Homo sapiens: one gene and its partners. The protein of the gene in region 1 purifies or fractionates together with the protein of each later gene. This does not show direct contact. Each region holds a gene or a part of one and is shown in the gene's direction. Other genes may lie near its edges.

Region 1 (2,644 bases):
GGTTAATTTTTGTCTGGCAACACTTGAACACTAATTTCTAGTAATAGAATATCTGTTTGCTGACCATAAACCAAGACACATAATCTGTAACTCTGAGTTCAATTATGGTGCATTGGGGGTTTTTGTCAAAATAATTGTTCCTAGAATGTAGAACAAATACTTTTGTTTCCTCTTTCCTTATTTCATCTAAAACAATTTTCTACCTGTCTATTAAGGCTAAATTGGTAGCAATATATCTCTTGCCAAAAAAAAAATAGAACATATATAAAACCAAGGTAAAGAGCAAAACCATGTTTAATTTTGAACAAGTTACTATAAGATACCTGAGGAACATTTAGACTGAAATATCAGTAGGACTTTAATTTCAAAAAAGTAGTTTGGGTTTCGGTATCTTTCGGATATTATTCAATGAGTTCAAAATATGACTTGAGTTTCCTCATGAAATTCTAAGTATTTTCCAGATCCAAAGCAAATGTCACCCCCCTTTTCTCCCCAACAGTAGTGTTTGTAGTTCCCTTTTCTGCTTTAATAGCACATTTTATTCTTGATTCTGTCTCATTGTTTTTTTCCTGTTTTCACTATTTTATAGACTTCTTAATGCTTTTTTTTGTGGTAAATATATTGCATTTGCATAAGATCAGAAACACAGCAGGCACTTATAAAATATATTCGTTGAATAATAACAAAATTATTAGATTATATCTGCAGCTTCCTCTGAAAAACAATAAAGATATTTGGATCCAAGTGGTGTAGTTTTTCAGGTGAGCAGAAATGTACAAATCAGAGAAAGGGGGGGAATCCAGTCTATATTTGCATATTAATATACTTGACTTTATCCTTTTAATCATTACCACAAGTGGAAAGTTTCAGCCCATGACAATGATAAATGGACACAGAAACTGTTTGGTTTAGAATTCAGCAGCTCTTTCAAAGAAATGAAAACACTCCCGTGAAGGTATGTGAGACTGCATCCCTTAGTAGATCTTTTGGGATTAAGATCAGAATTATAGTAAAAATAGGCAAAGACTTCCTTAAGTATATGAGACTCTATCCAACAGCAGAAGGTTCTGATCAAGACTGGAAGTGCAATAAAAGCAATGAAGATAAGTATCAGATATGAATGCTCTTCTGCAATGGTTTGATTGTAAATTTATTAATGATACAAAGTATTAAAAACTTGGATTTTTTTGTCTCTGGAGATGGCCACCGAATTGGACAAAATCTTTCTGATTCTGGCAATAGCAGAATTCATCATCAGCATGCTGGGGAATGTGTTCATTGGACTGGTAAACTGCTCTGAAGGGATCAAGAACCAAAAGGTCTTCTCAGCTGACTTCATCCTCACCTGCTTGGCTATCTCCACAATTGGACAACTGTTGGTGATACTGTTTGATTCATTTCTAGTGGGACTTGCTTCACATTTATATACCACATATAGACTAGGAAAAACTGTTATTATGCTTTGGCACATGACTAATCACTTGACAACCTGGCTTGCCACCTGCCTAAGCATTTTCTATTTCTTTAAGATAGCCCACTTCCCCCACTCCCTTTTCCTCTGGCTGAGGTGGAGGATGAACGGAATGATTGTTATGCTTCTTATATTGTCTTTGTTCTTACTGATTTTTGACAGTTTAGTGCTAGAAATATTTATTGATATCTCACTCAATATAATAGATAAAAGTAATCTGACTTTATATTTAGATGAAAGTAAAACTCTCTATGATAAACTCTCTATTTTAAAAACTCTTCTCAGCTTGACCAGTTTTATCCCCTTTTCTCTGTTCCTGACCTCCTTGCTTTTTTTATTTCTGTCCTTGGTGAGACATACTAGAAATTTGAAGCTCAGTTCCTTGGGCTCTAGAGACTCCAGCACAGAGGCCCATAGGAGGGCCATGAAAATGGTGATGTCTTTCCTTTTCCTCTTCATAGTTCATTTTTTTTCCTTACAAGTGGCCAATTGGATATTTTTTATGTTGTGGAACAACAAGTGCATAAAGTTTGTCATGTTAGCCTTAAATGCCTTTCCCTCGTGCCACTCATTTATTCTCATTCTGGGAAACAGCAAGCTGCAACAGACAGCTGTGAGGCTACTGTGGCATCTTAGGAACTATACAAAAACACCAAACCCTTTACCTTTGTAGACAGACTTTACAGAAGCTTTTCTAAGAGAATAACTCAACAAGGAGCATTTGGGGATCACTTCCACTGTTTTTTTTTTTTTTTTCTACTGGGTTTCTCTAAGTATTTTGGAACATAAATGAAATCCTACCAGGTTGCTTTTGATGGTAATTCACACATTGCCGGTCGATACCATTTTAAAAGTAATCATTTTTGTTTGGAGCATTGGCAAGCAATATTTTAACCTCACATATTATTTCAAAAAATCTAAATTATTTAATTTTATATGCAAACGATAGGTAATTGCAACTTGTGGAGAAAAAGGTGTGTGTCTTTAAAAGCAAGATAGATTACAAACTTGAATGGGTAAAAGATATATACAATGTGGATAGAAAATCTAATTAAAAACTAAAGTCACAGCAGGAAAAATATAGCCTCATAGCTTCAAAGCTAAACTTTTTTTTTTTTTTTTTTTTTTTTAATGGCATCTCACTCTGTCGCCCAGGCTGGAGTGCAGTGGTGT
Region 2 (3,500 bases), on another chromosome or scaffold:
AAAAAAAAAAAAAGTGGATGGGGAACTTTACAGTGGTTGGAGCAGCCTGGCAACACCTGAACCCATTAATGAACTCTTAACACCTCTAAGAGTGGGACAACCAAGCACTGTGCTTTTTTTTTTTTTTTAAAAAAAAAAAAAAAAAAAGGAAACGAAGTCTCCCTATGTTGTCCAGGCTTGTCTCGAGCTCCTGGGCTCAAGCAGTTTTCCCATCTCTGCTTCCTAAAATGCAGGGATTACAGGCATGAGCCACCATACCTAGCTCTTCTTGGCATAATGCAATGGAAAATACACAGTTCTATCCATGACGTTTTCTCACATGTCCCTCCCACATCCTACTGAACCTGAATCAAATAAACCTGTTATTCTAACTATCTGTTTAGGAGGGAAACAGAGGATAGCAGAACCTGCTAAGTGACACTGCCAACATGCAGTTTGCCAAATTCAAACTATAGAACAAATGACCCAGTTTCTTTAACAGATAAATAACAAGAGAAAAGGGCCAGTGGCAGAAGACCTGTTAGAGAGATTTTAAAAACCTTACCAGGCAAATGCAATGTGTGGATCTTGTTTGAACCATAATTAGCACAATAATGGTTCTAATACAAAGTTCAGCTGCTAAAAGATATTTTTAAAGGCATTTGAGGGAATTTGAATTTGAAACAGATACTAGATGATATTTTAAAATTCTTTCCTGAGAAATGGTCTATGAAGAAAAATTATTGTTTATTTTGTTAGGTATGATATTGTGAGAGATTTTGTTAGAAATACAAACTGATGTATTTTGGGATGAAATGATATGATACAGAAGGAACATAGATTTAATAAGATTGGCAAAATGTTGATAATTTGGTTGATGTTGAAATTGGGTGGTGAGTACATGAATGTCATTATGCTGTTGTTTGTATTTTCATGTATGTTCTAAAATGACCATAATAAAAGCTTTTTTAATTTATAGTAGACCACAAAAAATATTTTATTCCCCATTTGCAGTTGCCATTTAAAGTAAAACCAGCCATCACTTTATACCATGTGCATTGATTGTCTGGAAGCACTCTTGATTTCCTTTGTTGTGTTATAACCTAGTTATTTATATTAATAGTTCTTTATTTTAACTTTCCAGTTGGCTACATGACAAAAAGAAATAAATGACTAGAAGGCTGGAATTCAACAGCCTTGGGTTCTGGCTCTAGCTGTGGCTATGTAACTCCAAACACTGAGTTTCTGATCACTTTATAGATTCTCTAAAAATCTATAAAAATTGGCTAATTATTTCTTTTCTTCCTCATTGAGCTTTTATAAAAATAAAAGAAAATACATTAAATCTGAAAACACTTCTTTTGAGACAGGGTGGGTCTCACCCTGTCACCCAAGCCGGAATGTGGTTGTGCAATCATAGTTCAATGTAACCTTGAACTCTTAGACTCAAGCAAACCTACCACCTCAGCCTATTGAGTAGCTGGGGACTACAGGTGAAACTTTTTTATTTGTTGTAGAGATGAGGTCTCACTACGTTGTCCAGACTAGTCTTGAACTCCTGGCCTGAAGTGATCTTCTGCTTGGCCTTTAACCTATCTTGGAGTGCTTCTCACAGTATATTGAAATGGCCAATTAACCCATATCTTCTCCGCTATACTTTAGATCCCTGAGGTTCTGTGTCCTTTTGCCATTTGTTTTTAGCCCATGGTGTAGTGTAAGCATTTAAATATTTATGGAATTAGTTAAAATATTGATGTTTTAGCATAACTCTTGGTATGTATTTGGGAGTGATTTTTTTTTACACCTTTGGTTCACACAAGTCATGGTGTTTCCAATGCAAATTGAGATGAAAAAGTTCTCAGTAGATAGCTTAGAATTCATTATTAAGACTCTAGTCATATCTGCCAGACTTGTGCCTTAAGTGGTTGAATATACAAATGAACATCCTTCCATCCATGCCCCTGGTGGGGGGTAACTGAAGTAACACGTGCCAGGATATAATGCTTTTATTTGTTTTTTGTAGGTGCTGCCATGCTTACTGAGTCCCTTCTCTCTCCTTCTCTATCATCTTCCATCAGTGAGTATCACCAGCCTTTTGCGACAGCTAATGAACCTACCTCAAAGTGCAGCTACACCAGCACTCTCCAATCCTCACCTCACTGCTGTGCTCCAGAACAAGGTGATCTTGCCCTTTTAACTCCTTGAACTTTGTGAAATGTCTTAATTTGCGTTATAGATTAAAATAATGGCTGCTGTATCTCTAGCAACTTGGGAAAAAGGCTTCTTTCAGTCAAGAGTTACATTAAGCTCCTAGTAACCGGCTAGAAATAACAGTGTTTTCAACAAAATGGGATTTTATGTGTCTAGTGTGAAATAAATTTGATTTAGTAGCTCGACAGAGTCATCAGGGATCCAGGCTTTTTCACTTTTTTTCCTCTGCCATTCTTACCAGTGGCTTCCATGTTCATTATTCCTCATGGTCCAAGATGGCTGTGGAATTCATGATTCAGCTTTACATCAAGAAGGACAGGTGGATGTGGAGGGCAAAAAGATGTGGACCAGCTGTCCATCTTCCTTATTGAGACCTTTTCCAGGAGTTCTAACCAGAAACTTCTACTTACTGTTAATAGCCAGGACATTGTCACATGGCCACACCTAAGTGCAGGGAAGGCTGGAAAATATCTTTTAGTTTATGCCATTGTCATGACACATAAGAGTTCTGATAATGGGTAGGAAGGCATATTAGGCAATTAGCAGTCTCTGTCATAACACTATGAATAGTAGAATCATCCATTTCATATTTTATTTGCATCAAGTTTAAAGATTCAGAGATTCCTAGGGGAAACATAATATGAAATAAAGAATATGAATTTTTAGTCCTTCCCTGCTACTGTCTAGCTTTGTGACCTTGGACAGATGATATCACATTGCTGAATCAGTTTCCTGGTCTATAAGATGGAGGTGATGATGTAGACTTCATAGAGTTGTCCTGGTACTTAAATGAGATAACAGTTGTAAGTGGTTCGATATAATGCCTGGTACATAGTAGTTACTCATTAAGGGCCATTCTATGTACAGTAGAGATGAAAAAGTGGTCTCAAGGCCTCTTGCTCCTTTGCACCAGAAAACCTACCAAAGCATGACTCTAAAGGTCAGTGTATCAGAGGAAGAAGAGGTGACAGTGCCTCTGGGGTTCTGGAGTGATCCGGAATGTGCCTTTCTGTTATTTGGTCTCTTAGTTTTAATTTTAGTAAAGGCAGTAGTATTTTTTTTCTGAGAATAACATGAAAAGGGATTTTTTTTTTTTAAATCAGGGTCTTCTCTGTCACCCAGGCCAGAGTGCAGTGGCAAGATCTCGGCTCACTGCAACCTCTGCCTCCTGGGCTCAAGCCATCCTCCCACCTCAGCCTCCCAAGTAGATGGGACTACAGGCACATGCCACCACGCACAACTAATTTGTGTATTTTTTGTAGAGGTGGGGTTTCGCCATGTTGTCCAGGCTGGTCTCAAACTCCTGAGCT
Region 3 (3,500 bases), on another chromosome or scaffold:
CTATGGGTCCCCCTTTAAAACCCTGACAATCAAGGTACACATAGGATTCTCAGTCAAAACCTCTGTCTGTACCTCCAGTTTGTTTTACTTCTACATTTAATCTAGGACCCTTCTGTAGGAAGCCTTTCTACAAACAGCATTTCCTAGTGGTGTGGTTGAGGGATAGGAAAGGCAGGGCAGTCAACAGGTCTGGGACATGGATGCGAATTGAATTCTCATCTGGTAGGAGACTTGAAAATTGAATTCTCATCTGATAGGAGACTAGAGTTGAGAGTAGAGAGGCTGCATTGAATGCTCTTCCTTTCTAGCCCTACCAAGCTAGTTAGGATGTAGCAGTAGGTCCTATTTTCCTGAGGGGATTTTTGGCACTTGGGAGGAATGAAGTTGCCCCTAAGTTAGAATTTCAAAGTAGAGACAGTTTGTCTTTGGTGCTATTACCCACCCTCTCCTCTCACAGCTGTTTGGTGATCTTCTGCACATCCTGCCCTCTTCTATTTGCCTGATGCTCTGTTGCCATTTAGCAGAGTATCTCTTGTTAAATCTTTTTTTTTTGAAACGGAGTTTCGCACTGTCGCTCAGGCTGGAGTGCAGTGGCACGATCTCGGCTCACTGCAACCTCTGCCTCCCAGGTTCACGCGATCCTCCTGCCTCAGCCTCCCGAGTAGATGGGATTACAGGCACACACTATCTCGTTAGATCTTTAAAAGGTCTCTTAAAGTCTCACTTCTCTCAAACTTAGGTCTTTCAGATCTTAAACTCAGGTCCCAAATCCTCAGTTTTCCACTGGACTTAATGTTCTCATGGGCTCAATGGCTCTACTTGAACACGGCATTTGTGTGTAATTTATTTGAAAGTTTGATGTTGTAATATTCACATATATCGTTAGGTGGCAGCATGTGGCTACCTAGCAAAAATGGATGTCTGATTTCAAATTAGTAATGGAGATGGAATTACTATGATTCTTTTGTTCCCTTTCTCTGTCTCTCGATATATGCCATTTATAAAATAGCTCTTATGCTTTTTATAAAATAATTATTGTTCTTGGTTAGGTGGTTTTTTTACTAAGCTCTTTTTTTCTTTTCTTAATAAATAGGTGGGAAATACACCAAGAGTGATTTCAAGGAGTATGAAAAAGAACAGGATAAACCACCTAATTTGGTTCTGAAAGATAAAGTAAAGCCCAAACAGGAGTATCCTTACCAAGAATCAGTTAGTTAATATGTATTGACCATCTGCTATGTGTAGAGTACTGTGTGATGTGTTATGAAAAGTCACAAAAGCTATAGAAGACAAATTTCCTGAATCCAGATTGTTTGTGAGGAAGTAACTTAGTTTATCATTATCTCTTTTCAAGATCTTACATATACTTTGCTTTTTCACTATACTCTAGTGTATGGAGAAAGTTAAGGTTGAAAGAAATCTGTAGCCTAATTCTTTTATTAATACTTTCCTACTCTAGGTTAAGTACTTTCCTACTTATCATATTCTCAGAAGATCTTCAGGTAAGATTTGTATTTTCTTTTTGGGGGGGCTTTCCTGCAAAAACCGGAAAGCCTACTAGACAAATTCTAAAAGAGCTGTAACACTAGCTTTGTATTTTCTATATGTAATTGTAATGTTTTCTATTCCTCATAATCTGAAATTTATTATTGCTAAGCTGATTCCTTTGTGCTACCTGCTGTTATGTTTAACTTCCTTACCTAGATAACAAAATCCTATTGTTCTCTGTTACAATGTTAGGTTACTTCTTTCGGTATAGTATATTGTAATTTCAACAACAAATATTTATTGGGCTTCTACTGAGTGCAAGAGTTCACTTTTGTAGGATTAAAAAGAAATCCATTGACTTGACCATTTACTTCAGGTTCTTCCAAGTTTTAGGTTGAGACATGTAAAAAGTAATGAAACATACTGTTTATATTATGACATTTAAATTGGTTCACTAATTTTTCCCATTATAAATATATCACTCCACACATTGCAAGAGTTATTTCTGTTGTGATTCTTTCTGGTAAATGGTGTCTTTGTTTCCTAGTTTCTATTGGTATTTCAGGGATTTTTTTTTCTACATATGTAGACATTTCTTTTCCAAGTACTCATCAAGAAAGATGAATATCAGGTTGACCTGGTCTATATTCATGTTTTAAGATGTGTTGATTGTCTGCAATGTATAAAGCATTGTGAGGTGTTAGAACTGGATAAAGTCTGAAGAAAGCTGATAAAATCAGCATAAGGAGAGGCTTTCACATGCAGACAGACCAAATAAGAAGCTGAGATTTGGTCAGAAAAGATCAACATTCAAGGGCATATGATTGAAAGCTCAAAATCATAAAAGTTATGAATGGAATACATTTGATATTTATTTACCAAATCTTTGAAATTAAATTTAGGCTTATTACTAATAACTATAGCTGGAAGAAGGGGAATTTTAAGTTTTCTTTAATTTTAATTAATTGAAACAACCACACATATACTTATATGGAATAGTGTAGCTTCTAGCCTTTTGAAGTTGATGCAAAAGAGAGAAATGCTGTTAGGGGATAGTCTGATGTGCAGATAAATTGTCTTAAGTCAGTTAAGAAGGCATGGTGGCATCTACTTTATGGGCCTTAAGAGAAAGAGAAATTAGTGAAAGTATAGATTATTAATAAGAAGAATCAAAAATAGAAGTAGGAGAAGGAAATAACTTGGCCCAACTAGACCTCAGGGAAGAAATTGGAGAAAAGATGGCAGTGAGCTCACAAATTTGTGTTTTATTCAAAGGGAGAGGGATTTGATGTCTTCTGAAAGTGTTGATTTTAGTGATAAGTACAAGATAGTGGGTAAGTGAGGAAGCAGGAGATACAACAAGTGTCTTGAGGGTATGACAAGTAATCAACAGATACTTAGTAAGCATCTGTCACATACTCAGTTTAGCAATGAAAGATATTCAGTTCCTGCCCACATAGAGCTTACATTTTGCTGTTGGAGTGGGGAAAAAAAACCAGACATTAAATAATTACCATTCTAAATACGTCTAAATTATTGCAAATAAATATTGCAAAGAGATATGGGACTCATAATAGGGGGCGAGAGGTTAGAGAATACCCTCAACACTGAAAAAAGTGGCATTAAAGCTGTGACACTAATATGGGAGATAGGAGGGCTGAGGTGGAGTGCTGTCTTCTTTCGTATGATCCATCATTTAAGAAATAGGCTGGGTGCAGTGGCTCATGGGAGTGCTGTCTTCTTTCGTATGATCCATCATTTAAGAAATAGGCTGGGTGCAGTGGCTCATGCCTGTAATCCCAGCAGTGTGGGAGGCCGAGGTGGGAGGATTGCTGGAGCCCAGAAGTTTGAGAGCAGCCAGGGCAATATAGCGAGACCCGGTCTCCATTTTTTTTTTCTTAAAAAAAAAAAAAAAATTGGCTGGGTGCAGTGGCTCATGCCTATAATCCCAGCACTCTGGGAGGCCGAGGCGGGCAGATCACCCGAGGTCGGGAGTTCAAGACCAGCCTGGC
Region 4 (2,739 bases), on another chromosome or scaffold:
AGCAGCAAGAAATGGCACAGCAGGAACGAAAGCAACAGCAGGAGCTGCACCTGGCCCTGAAGCAAGAACGTCGGGCTCAGGCCCAGCAGGGCCATCGGCCATACTTCCTGAAAAAATGTGAGTTGGGCACAACTGTTGCTAACAGGGACAGGGGTGCAGGGGCCATGGTGGTAGAGTCTTGTGTTGGGGTGTCCCTGATCCCCTTTAAGGAAGGCATGAAGGCTGGATCCCATGGTAACTTGGAGGAAAGTAGAAATAGTAGGGAGTTGTTTGTAACCAGTCTTGTATCCCTAATTAGATCATGGCAGGCATTGTCACCTTTATTTCTTGGTCTACACTCCCCACTTCCCAACCCCCCCCCCCCAACACACACACAGTGAGTTTTATCTCTTGGTCTACACTACACACACACACACACACACACACACACACACACACAAACACAGAGTCAGTTTTATCTCTTGGTCTACACACACACACACACACAATCAGTTTTATCTCTTGGTCTATACTACACACACACACAGAGTTTTATCTCTTGGTCTACACACACACACACACAATCAGTTTTGTTTCTTGGTCTACACTGCACACACACACATGCACACACGCTGGGCCAGGCACATAGGTGTTCATAGTTGGTTGAATTGAGTAGTACTGAGATCATATAAAAAGTCATCAGTTGGGCTGGGCACGGTGGCTCACGCCTATAATCCCAGCACTATGGGAGGCCAGTGTGGGGGGGTCACGAGGTCAGGAGTTCGAGACCAGCCTGGGGGCCAACATGGTGAAACCCTGTCTCTACTAAAGATATAAAAAAATTAGCCGGGCCTGGTGGCGTGCACCTGTAATCCAGCTACTCAGGAGGCTGAGGCAGGAGGATCACTTGAGCCCGGGAGGTGGAGGTTGCAGAAAGCCTAGATTGCACTGTTGTACTCCAGCCTGGGCAACAGCGTGAGACTCCATCTCACAGGAAAAACAAACAAACAAAAAAAAGTCACCAGTTGGGCCGGGCGCAGTGCCTCACACCTGTAATCCCAGCACTTTGGGAGGCCAAGGAGGGCAGATCACGAGGTCAGGAGTTCAAGACCAGCCTGGCAAACATGGTGAAACCCCGTCTCTACTAAAAATACAAAAATTAGCTGGGTGTGGTGCTGTGCATCTGTAATCCCAGCTACTCAGAAGGCTGAGGCAGGAGAATCGCTTGAATCTGGGAGGCGGAGGTTGCAGTGAGCTGAAATCGTGCCACAGCACTTCAGCCTGGGTGACAGAGTGAGACTCCATCTCAAAAAAAAAAAGTCACCCGTTGGCCAGGCGCAGTGGCTCACGCCTGTAATCCCAGCACTTTGGGAGGCTGAGGAGAGCGGATCACCTGAGGTCAGGAGTTCGAGACCAGCCTGGCCAACATGGCGTAACCCTGTTTCTACTAAAAATACAAAAAAATTAGCCATATGTGGTGGTGCGCGCCTGTAATCCCAGCTACTCCGGAGGCTGAGGCAGGAGAATCACTTGAATCTAGAAGACGGAGGTTGCAGTGAGCCGAGATCGCGTCACTGCACTCCAGCCTGGGTAACAGAGCAGGACTCCGTCTCAGAAAAAAGATAGAGGGGCACCAGTGAGCTTTAAAGAACTCATGTATCCAGCATAATGGCTTGGAGTTACTGACCTGGTTTGGGAAAGAATAGGGGCTTCCTTCTTTGTTCACCAACTTTCATTCTCCCTGTCATTTAGCTGAGCAGCGCCAGTTGGCACTAGCTGAGAAGTTCAAGGAGCTGAAACGCAGCAAGAAATTGGAGAACTTCTTGAGTCGAAAGAGGCGACGAAATGCAGGCAAGGACAGGAGACATCTCCCTTTGAGCAAAGAGTAATAAGGAACTATCCTCTGCTCTGCCACTGCCCCAGGGAGACATGGATCTGTGAGGACAGATTTGGCCACGGCTGGTTTCCGTTCAAGGGCAAGGATCACAGCTGCCCTTGAATCTCATTGCCTCAGAGAAGACTAGAGGGCTCTTGGACTATCCCTAGGGCTACACAAGAATAGTTCAGCCTTCTGCCATGCCACACAGCCTCAGCTTGAATCTGGTTCATTGCGTCCTCGTGTTCTTCTCTCATCCTTGCCTTAAACCAGGGATTCTGATACCGAAGAAGAGGGGCCAATGAAAACCATGGAGTCTGTTCGTGACTCCCAGGGCTGGGACATTATGTAGGAGCCACTTCATAAACATTCTCTTTACTCATCTTTTTATTCTGTTTTTTGTGGCCTTCTTTTTGTGTTTCCCCCCCGAAACAGAGTCTCGCTCTGTCACCCAGGCTAGAGTACAGTGGTGCAATCTCGCCTCACTGCAACCTCCACCTCCCAGGTTCAAGTGATTCTTGTGCCTCAGCCTCCCGAGTAGCTGACATCCGCCACCAAGCCCAGCTAATTTCTTTCGTATTTTTAGTAGAGATAGAGTTTTGCCATGTTGGCTAGTTTGATCTTAAACTCTTGGCCTCAAGTGATCTGCCTGCCTCAGACTCCCAAAGTGCTGGGATTACAGGCGTTGAGCCACCGTTCCGGCCTTAAGGCCTCTGCTTTTATGTGGGATTTGTGGGTAGCCTAGAACTACTTTTTAGTGGGCCACATATTGGGATAGGCAATAAAGCCTAAGGCATCTACAACTGGGAAGTCAGATCAGAAACCCCTCCCACTTAAATCTGGGCCCCTCAAGGATGACAAGATCATTTAGTGGGTGAACCAAT
Region 5 (3,500 bases), on another chromosome or scaffold:
TTAGCATTTCTTATGATTCTTAGTAAATCTAATATTCTGGTGTGGATGGAATTGTAGTTCCAAAATTTTTATGGAAAAAATATAATTAGTAATTACTAATTAAATTCTTCCATTTACAAATGTTCTTGATTTTACATGAAGAAGTAATTTGCAAATAAAAGTTTTACAGTCCATAATCTAATTTAAATGCTACATGACTGATTGTTAGGGACCTTTGGATGGCTTTTTCCAGAGCAAACAGTGTTTGGTTGTTTGGTACCCTACAGACAACACAATAAATACATTTTGAATAAATTAATGAAATTGGAATTTTTATTTCATAAATGTTAATGAGACGTGCCTGAGTTAGCTGTGTTTTTAGAGCTGCAAGTCTATTTATAAAATACATTTGTGCCTATTCATTGTTAGAATTTTGTTTGTAGCTTTTAAGGTAAACTTTGATTAAGTTAACGTAACCTTGACAATTTTTAAAAATACTGTTGAAAACATTTTTCTTTTCCATTTTTCAGTTTCTTTAGGTGATTTTTCTGACACTTCAGCAGATGAAAATTCAGTTAATAAAAAAATGAATGACTTTCATATATCAGATGATGAAGAAAAGAATCCTTCAAAACTATTGTTTTTGAAAACCAATAAATCAAACGGTAACATAACCAAAGATGAGCCAGTGTGTGCCATCAAAAATGAAGAGGAAATGGCACCTGATGGGTGTGAAGACATTGTTGTAAAATCTTTCTCTGAATCTCAAAATAAGGATGAGGAATTTGAAAAAGACAAAATAAAAATGAAACCTAAACCCAGAATTCTTTCAATTAAAAGCACATCTTCAGGTAATTTGTTAGGATTACTGTAATTGCATTTCTTGGAAGTTTATTTTAAGATAATCAGTCCCAAAATTTTTATATGGTAGCTAGTATATATTTAAGAAAAAAAGACAGACTTAACTTCCATTTTACAGACCTGTTGTATTTTGTCTAACTTCAATTTTACAGACCTGTTGTATTTTGTCTAACTTCAATTTTACAGACCTGTTGTATTTTGTCTTGCATCTAGGCTGTTGCCTGATAGAAAGCCAAAGCACAAAGCCAAAGCACCTTTAGTCATCCATAGCATCCATAGCTGTGGATCTCCAGACACCTAGACCTGTGAGCTTCAGTTTTGTTTGTAGGTGTGGAACTGGAATGGAATGCTGTCTAATCCCTCTCACACTCCAAAGATTAGAGTTACAGCAATATTGAGACTAATCCTTCTAACAGTCTTTGCCATACCAACATTGTGCCAGAAAATTTTCTTGACATTTGTATATTTGAAGGATGAGTTATGTTATTGCTGCTGTTGTTTGTTGAAGCATCCAGGCACTCCTTAAGAGAATCTCCATTTGATCTCTGTATTGCCTATGAAAATCTACTAAGATTCAGTTTTCCAAAGGAAAGTTCCTGGTGTGATCTGGGATTACAGTTAGTTCTGCCCACAATTTTACTGAATTTTAAGCATAAAGGAACAAAGATAGAATGAAACGGAGACCAAGTCCTGTCACATACCCTGGGCCACCATTCATGAACTTGTATATGCAAGGTTAAGGATTTTTTGTTTTTCATTCTTTGTATTTTATAAAGGAATTATTAGTTGATGTTAACCTTCATAAAAATCTCCTTGCATATCATCAGTAAATACAGTGCTGGTAAATATTTCATACTTTGCATATTAGATACCAGTGGTAACGTCAGACAAAACTTTATTTCAGGCATGTATTGGGGAACTGCTCCTTTCTTCCTGACCCCACAATCTCATTAACTTTGAAATGAGCAAAGGATGTAAGCAGAGCAAAGAACACTAGAATAATATCCAGGACACTGGGGGAAAGGCCTCTGTATATTATATATGACTTCAGCAAATAAGTTAAGCTTCAGTATCCTCATGATGAGGAAGCTAAAAATAACCCTCTTTCTATTCCTGCAAAATTGTGAGAGTTTATTGAAGTGCATCTCATAAACTATAAAAAACTACAAAAATGCAAACAGATGCATAATGAAACAATTAACTTGTTAAAATGTACCTTCTAAGTATAGTGAGTGAAATCAATGCTGGAGAGAAGAGGAACATAATTGAACTTCGTTATTAAGAAAATGCGAGCATATATAGCAACTAAAAATTTGTCTGAGACAGGTGGATGTATATAATTAGAAGTTTATGGTAGATAATCAGGAAAGCAATAATCCACCTATTTCATACCTTAAAAAAAAAAAAAACCTGTGGTGGGTTACAATGAATAAGAAAATACTGTATTTTAACCACAAGGTGGCATCAGGATCCTAAATGCTCTACTTATATATGCAATGTTATATTCAGTACGTGTAATATAAAAATAATTACCTAAATAGGTAATTGTATACATTGATTACCAAAAAAAGCGCTTTTCTTAAAGTATAGGCATTTTTTTTTCTTTTTGGGAACTTGACAGTACTTCTGGAAGTGGAATTTTTGTAGAAAATATATTAAAGTTGTCATTCTCAGGTTCTTCAGGTTGAAAAGTAAAAATTGAGGCTAGTGTTCCTAAGATAATATCTGGCATATATAATAAGTATTTAAATGAATAAATTAATATATGAATGATTTATCTTTGAAAGAGGGAATATGGTTCATGAGTTTATCCTCTAAATTCTTTGACTTTTTTTTTTTCTGTACAGGTTTGGAACTCAATGTTTTTAATGTGGTGAGATATTGCTGAGTAGCAAGTAATGCTTTATGAAACTATTAGAGCTTGAAGGTTTTCTCTGTCCTTGCTTGTCTTTTGTAAAAAGTATAATAACCAGACTTTATAGTCACTACTGAAGTGACAGTTGCTCTATAAAGTGAAAGTATTTTTCACAGGATATGTTTTTATTTTAATACTAACATGACTGAAATCATGAACTTTGGAGTCAGGATGCTTCTCCTTTAATCTGAGATCTGCAGCCTGCTAGAGTTTGTGACTTTGGGCATGAGACCTCTTTGTTCTCATTTTATTCATCTTTAAAAACGGGATAATAGTTGCCTGCCTCTAGGAGTTTGAGGCAATTAAATGAGTTCACATATTTGAAGTGCTTAGAATAGTACTGGCATAAATTTAGCACTCTATAAATGTTCTGATTATTCATTTTATTATTTAGCGTTTGTTTATAAACATGCTCAGCAGGTATAAAGTATCAGTCATGCGGGATGCGTAAGTTCTAGAGATCTGCTGTACATTGTGCCTATAGTTAACAGTACTGTCTTTTGCACTGAATGTATTAAGAAGGTAGATCTCATGTTTGTTCTTACCACAATAATAAAAAAAATTGACTCAACACCTTCTTTCAGGCATTATATAATATTCTGCTTAAACTGAGGCTCAAAAGACATGCAAGCATTTGTCAGGAGGAGAAGCAGGAAGTGGATATTCTAGGCAGGGGGATCAGCTTAGGTAAAGGTATGGTAGCAGGAGGGATTGGAGGGATTGTGGTATGTGTGCATGACAACTG
Region 6 (2,284 bases), on another chromosome or scaffold:
TTTTTTTTTTTTTTTTTTTTTGAGGCAGAGTCTCACTCTGTCACCCACGCTGGAGTACAGTGGCACAATCTTGGCTCACTACAATCTCTGCCTCCCAGGTTCAAGTGATTCTCCTGCCTCAGCCTCCCTAGTAACTGGGATTACAGGTGTGTGCCACCACGCCCAACTAACTTTTGTAATTTTAGTAGAGACAAGGTTTCACCATGTTGGGCAGGCTGGTCTAATTAATTAAGCTTTTTAAACAATTTAACCAAAACAAAATTCTGGCATTAGATTCAGCATATCAGGAGGTACTCTTTGAAGACCATTGCATTTCTTTCTTTTTCAGTAAAATGAAGGGGAAAAAAAGTGTGTTGACCTGAATTGATTTGATATGGGGAAGAGGCCTTTTAAGATCAAGTCCTTTCTTTTTGTTACAAAGTTACCTTGGTTGAACATCATATTTTATTTGCATTTTATGCTTTTAGTTATTCTGTGAACTTTTCTGTACATCTGGTTTTGCTTAGTTTGTTCATATTTATTTCTCTTACTAGATAGTAAGTTCTCTGAGAGCAGAAATTTGTTTACTACCCCAGCACTTAACACGGAACCTTATTAGTTGGGTTCAATAAAAATACATTGACAAGAATTTGAGTTTTTATTTTATACTCCTATAGGACTCAGAAATAGTATCCTGATACTTAATAGGCAGTGGTTACTCAAAATCTGTACCAAAATCCAAAGGGTTTTAACTTAATTCGTTTTCTATAGGGAGGTATATCATACAAAGAGAATGCAACATGTTATCTGTGTAAAATGGACTTCTGACAGCAAGTATATTATGTGTGGATCTGATGAAATGAACATTCGCCTGTGGAAAGCTAATGCTTCTGAAAAATTGGGTGTGGTAAGAGAATTCATTTTCTTTCATTGTCATAAAGCTGATTTCTAATTTTATTAGATATTACATTATGAAAATTTACTTTTAGGTATTTTTGGGTATTTTGATTAAATTGACATAGCTGTGATAAAAAAAGCAATAAATGGACAAGGTTGTATTGATAATTATTTGCTTCATTCTGATCTATTATTGTAGACACTGTACATTCAAATTGACATTTAAGACCTTCAGAATGCCTTTGTTAATTCAGATGTTTGATAATATTGAGTCTTACTGGTTTTTTGTGTTTTCCTTGAGGTAGGGACAGAAGATGCAGGAACTAGAGGCTCAGAACTTAGAGCTCGTATCTCTTGTTAGAGAAATAGTCATCCAGCAACTCAAAGGCTGCAAGTCCCTGGGAGATCTTGTAATATCAAAGACACAATGGAACATTTAATAAATACAGAAAGCTTCATACTTTAAAAAAGATTCCATGAAAAAATAGCAGGTGTTATCATTGGCTGGTTACCTCCAGGATAGGGGATTATGGTTGATTTTGTTTTGTTCTTGATGTTTTTCTAAATGTCCCATATTTTCTATAAGAAACAGAGTGTTTATATTAGAAATAAATATTAAGTTTAAGAAGGAAAGGGTAAGTGTGAATTATTTTCTACTTAGTCCTGATAGGAAAATCAAAGGCAATTCTGTTTTAGGTTTAATGATTGATAAGTATTGCATTGTGCCTAGGTCCATCATTAAATGTTCCTCTAAATCGTATCATCCTTAACATTCGTTAAACAAAGGGTAGTTCTTATGGAATTGGATACTTATTTTTTCTTTGCTGTTTCACTATGTTTAACTCACCTCTTTACCCACCCCCAAAATTTGAGTGAGTGATTTAGGTGCTTTTCTATGTTATTGATGCCTAGGGAAGGTCCAACTCAGTGATCCACGTGGCCCTACTCCTTCAGCACTGCTGCTTTCTACTGGGTGGCATCTATCTACATGGCGAGTGTGTTGCCTAAAAGGAAATTCAGTGCTTGCAGAGCTAGTGTTACTAATATAACCTTGTAAAGTGCAGAATTACATTGGCAATTTTGGTTGCATATCATAAAAGATTAGGTTAGGGGGAAAAGGGTGCTTTCTAGCTTTTTTATACTGAAGCAAAACAACACACTATTCATTAAGATACCAAAATGTGTATTTTCAGCTTACATCACGAGAAAAAGCAGCCAAGGATTATAACCAGAAATTGAAGGAGAAATTTCAGCATTATCCTCATATAAAACGTATAGCTCGTCATCGACATCTACCAAAATCTATCTATAGCCAGATTCAGGAACAGCGCATCATGAAAGAAGCTCGTCGACGAAAGTATGTTTTGAGGCATTTGACTCTATTACCCTTTTCTGACTTCTGCTCTCA
Region 7 (3,500 bases), on another chromosome or scaffold:
TGGAGCTAGAGACGGACCGCATGGTGACTATCGAGGAGGGGAGGGACCTGGACATGATTTCAGGGGGGGAGATTTTTCGTCTTCTGATTTCCAGAGCAGAGATTCATCACAGTTGGACTTCAGGGGTAGGGACATACATTCTGGGGATTTTCGGGATAGAGAAGGACCACCTATGGACTATAGGGGTGGAGATGGTACTTCTATGGATTATAGAGGTAGGGAGGCACCTCATATGAACTACAGAGACAGGGATGCTCACGCTGTTGACTTCAGAGGTAGGGATGCTCCTCCATCTGACTTCAGGGGCCGGGGCACTTATGATTTAGATTTTAGAGGCCGGGATGGATCCCATGCAGATTTTAGGGGAAGGGATTTATCAGATTTGGATTTTAGGGCCAGAGAACAGTCCCGTTCTGATTTTAGGAATAGAGATGTATCTGATTTGGACTTTAGAGACAAAGACGGAACACAAGTAGACTTTAGAGGCCGAGGTTCAGGTACTACTGATCTAGACTTTAGGGACAGGGATACGCCACATTCAGATTTCAGAGGTAGACACCGATCTAGGACTGATCAGGATTTTAGGGGCAGAGAGATGGGATCTTGTATGGAATTTAAAGATAGGGAGATGCCCCCTGTGGATCCAAATATTTTGGATTACATTCAGCCCTCTACACAAGATAGAGAACATTCTGGTATGAATGTGAACAGGAGAGAAGAATCCACACATGACCATACGATAGAAAGGCCTGCTTTTGGCATTCAGAAGGGAGAATTTGAGCATTCAGAAACAAGAGAAGGAGAAACACAAGGTGTAGCCTTTGAACATGAGTCTCCAGCAGACTTTCAGAACAGCCAAAGTCCAGTTCAAGACCAAGATAAGTCACAGCTTTCTGGACGTGAAGAGCAGAGTTCAGATGCTGGTCTGTTTAAAGAAGAAGGCGGTCTGGACTTTCTTGGGCGGCAAGACACCGATTACAGAAGCATGGAGTACCGTGATGTGGATCATAGGCTGCCAGGAAGCCAGATGTTTGGCTATGGCCAGAGCAAGTCTTTTCCAGAGGGCAAAACTGCCCGAGATGCCCAACGGGACCTTCAGGTATGTTGATGGGGTGGATTGCTTTTTTTTTTTTTTTTTTTTTTTTTTTTGAGACGGAGTCTCGCTCTGTTGCCCAGCCTGGAGTGCAGTGGTGCGATCTCTGCTCATGCAAGCTCCGCCTCCTGGGTTCATGCCATTCTCCTGCCTCAGCCTCCTGAGTAGCTGGGACTGACTACAGGCGCCCACCACCACGCCTGGTGTGAGCCACCGCGCCCGGCCTGCTTTTTTTTTTTTTCTTTAAATAAGACTTTTGTGAAGGATGACATTTATTTATTTATTTATTTATTTATTTTTGAAACGGAGTCTTGCTCTGTCACCCAGGCTAGAGTGCAGTGACATAATCTCAGCTCACTGCAACCTCCGCCTCCCAGGGTCAAGCAATTTTCCTGCCTCAACCTCCTGAGTAGCAGGGATTGCAGGCATGTGCCACCATGCCCAGTTAATTTTTGTATTTTTAGTGCAGATGGGGTTTCACCATGTTGGCCAGGCTGGTCTCGAACTCCTGACCTCGTGATCCGCCCACCTCGGCCTCCCAAAGTGCTGGAATTACAGGCATGAGCCACCGTGCCTGGCCAGTTTTTTTTTTTTTTTTTCATTTTATTTTTATCTTTGCATAACCATTAGAAAGCAAAATTTGTATTCAGGAGTGGAATGTAGGAATGTAAATCTCTAGAGAAAAGGTCCTCAGCTCAGATCATATATATGTGTGTGTGTGTGTATATATATATATGAATATATATGTATATATATGAATATATATTTATATATATATATTTCTTTTTTCTTTTATTCTTTTCTTCCTGCTTCACTTTCCATTTGTGTATATATGTGTGTGTATATATGAAGGAACTATATATATATATATTTGAGACACGGTCTTGCTCTGTCACTCGGGCTGAAGTGCGGTGGTGTAATTATGGCTCCTTGCAGCCTTGACCTCCCAGGCTCAAGCGATCCTCCCACCTCAGCCTTCTGAGTAGCTGGAACTACAGATGTGCGCCAGCCACTATGCCTGGCTAGTTTTTTTTTTTTTCCTTTGAGAATGAGTCTTGCTCTGTCGCTCAGGCTGAAGTGCAGTTGTGCGATCTCAGCTCACTGCAACCTCTACCTCCTGGGTTCAAGGGGTTCCCCCGCCTCAGCCTTCCAGGAAGCTGGGACTACAGGTATATTTCACCATTCCTAGTTAGTTGTGTTTTTTTTTTTCTTTTTTGAGATGGAGCCTCACCGTGTTGCCTAGGCTGGAGTGCAGTGGCACGATCTTGGCTCACAGCAACCTCCGCCTCCCGTGTTCAAGCAGTCTTCCTGCCTCAGCCTCCTGAGTAGTTGGGACTGTAGTTGTGCACCACCAAATCTGACTAATTTTTGTATTTTTTGTAGAGATGAAGTTTAGGCATGTTACCTAGGCTGGGCTGGAACCCCTGATCTCAAATGATCCACCCTTCTCAGCTTCCCAAAGAGCTGGGATTTCAGGCATGCACCACCATGCCTGGCCAGCAATTTTTGTATTTTTTTGTAGACAGAAGGTTGCAACATATTTCCCAGGCTGGTTTCAAATTCCTGGGTTCAAGCAGTCCCCCCACCTTAGCTTCCCAAAGTGCTGGGATTACAGCAATGAGCCACTGCCCCTACCCTTTTGATGTGTGTTTATTCATTATTTTGTTTTATGATGCTGATTTACATGCCTTGGGATAATTTAGTTTGAAAGTATATGTCTTTGGGAGTTGACTCTTGCAACTCTCGCTTAGTTAGACCTGTGATTGTTTAGGGATCATTTTCTTATTTAAATTCATTGAGAGAATACTTAGGAGTCTCCCTAGTTGTGAAGAGCTGATATTAATGTTGCAACTATCCTCTTGCAGCTAACGTAATTAACTTAAATGTTAAACTTCTTGAATATATGATTTAAGCAAGGAGGGTTATATTTGTAATTTTACAATGAAGGTATTCTCTTTTAAAGTAGATTTGGCTGGGTACAGTGGCCTATGCTTGTAATTTCAGTGCTTTAGGAGGCTGAGGTGGGAGGATCACTTGAGGCCAGGAACTTGAGACCAGTGTGGTGCAACCTCAGGAGAGAATGTGAGGGTGGGGAAGAAAAATAAGGCCAGGCACAGTGGCTCATGCCTGTAATCCCAACACTTTGGGAGGCAAAGGTGGGCAGATCATTTGAGGTCAGGATTTCAAGACCAGCCTGGTCAACATGGTGAAACCCCATCTCTACTAAAAATAACAAAAATTAGGCCAGGCGTGGTGGTTCTTGCCTGTAATCCCAACACTTTGGGAAGCTGAGGCAGGTGGATCATTTGAGGTCGTGGGTTTGAGACCAGCCTGACCAACACGGAGAAACCCCATTTCTACTAAAAATACAAAATTAGCTGGGCGTAGTGATGCATGTGTGTAATCC

The links.
Region 2: the proteins of TAS2R42 (region 1) and PATL1 purify together in Homo sapiens (affinity purification with mass spectrometry; one large-scale study listed by BioGRID and IntAct). This does not show direct contact.
Region 3: the proteins of TAS2R42 (region 1) and PPIL4 purify together in Homo sapiens (affinity purification with mass spectrometry; one large-scale study listed by BioGRID and IntAct). This does not show direct contact.
Region 4: the proteins of TAS2R42 (region 1) and RRP36 purify together in Homo sapiens (affinity purification with mass spectrometry; one large-scale study listed by BioGRID and IntAct). This does not show direct contact.
Region 5: the proteins of TAS2R42 (region 1) and MAP9 purify together in Homo sapiens (affinity purification with mass spectrometry; one large-scale study listed by BioGRID and IntAct). This does not show direct contact.
Region 6: the proteins of TAS2R42 (region 1) and DCAF13 purify together in Homo sapiens (affinity purification with mass spectrometry; one large-scale study listed by BioGRID and IntAct). This does not show direct contact.
Region 7: the proteins of TAS2R42 (region 1) and RBM6 purify together in Homo sapiens (affinity purification with mass spectrometry; one large-scale study listed by BioGRID and IntAct). This does not show direct contact.

The regions. Positions count from the first base shown.
Region 1 is NC_000012.12:11,185,493-11,188,136, reverse strand, and holds TAS2R42 (taste receptor type 2 member 42), read left to right. Parts: upstream 1-1,199; coding exon 1,200-2,144; downstream 2,145-2,644. UniProt on the Homo sapiens protein: Receptor that may play a role in the perception of bitterness and is gustducin-linked. May play a role in sensing the chemical composition of the gastrointestinal content.
Region 2 is NC_000011.10:59,641,538-59,645,037, reverse strand, and holds part of PATL1 (protein PAT1 homolog 1), read left to right. Parts: intron 1-2,002; coding exon 2,003-2,158; intron 2,159-3,500. UniProt on the Homo sapiens protein: RNA-binding protein involved in deadenylation-dependent decapping of mRNAs, leading to the degradation of mRNAs. Acts as a scaffold protein that connects deadenylation and decapping machinery.
Region 3 is NC_000006.12:149,515,044-149,518,543, reverse strand, and holds part of PPIL4 (peptidyl-prolyl cis-trans isomerase-like 4), read left to right. Parts: intron 1-1,093; coding exon 1,094-1,190; intron 1,191-1,527; exon of another isoform or gene 1,528-1,587; intron 1,588-3,500. UniProt on the Homo sapiens protein: PPIases accelerate the folding of proteins. It catalyzes the cis-trans isomerization of proline imidic peptide bonds in oligopeptides.
Region 4 is NC_000006.12:43,027,361-43,030,099, forward strand, and holds the end of RRP36 (ribosomal RNA processing protein 36 homolog), read left to right. Parts: coding exon 1-117; intron 118-1,731; coding exon 1,732-1,868; 3' UTR 1,869-2,239; downstream 2,240-2,739. UniProt on the Homo sapiens protein: Involved in the early processing steps of the pre-rRNA in the maturation pathway leading to the 18S rRNA.
Region 5 is NC_000004.12:155,370,466-155,373,965, reverse strand, and holds part of MAP9 (microtubule-associated protein 9), read left to right. Parts: intron 1-509; coding exon 510-830; intron 831-3,500. UniProt on the Homo sapiens protein: Involved in organization of the bipolar mitotic spindle. Required for bipolar spindle assembly, mitosis progression and cytokinesis. May act by stabilizing interphase microtubules.
Region 6 is NC_000008.11:103,439,386-103,441,669, forward strand, and holds part of DCAF13 (DDB1- and CUL4-associated factor 13), read left to right. Parts: intron 1-750; coding exon 751-886; intron 887-2,069; coding exon 2,070-2,233; intron 2,234-2,284. UniProt on the Homo sapiens protein: Part of the small subunit (SSU) processome, first precursor of the small eukaryotic ribosomal subunit.
Region 7 is NC_000003.12:49,967,650-49,971,149, forward strand, and holds part of RBM6 (RNA-binding protein 6), read left to right. Parts: coding exon 1-1,099; intron 1,100-3,500. UniProt on the Homo sapiens protein: Specifically binds poly(G) RNA homopolymers in vitro.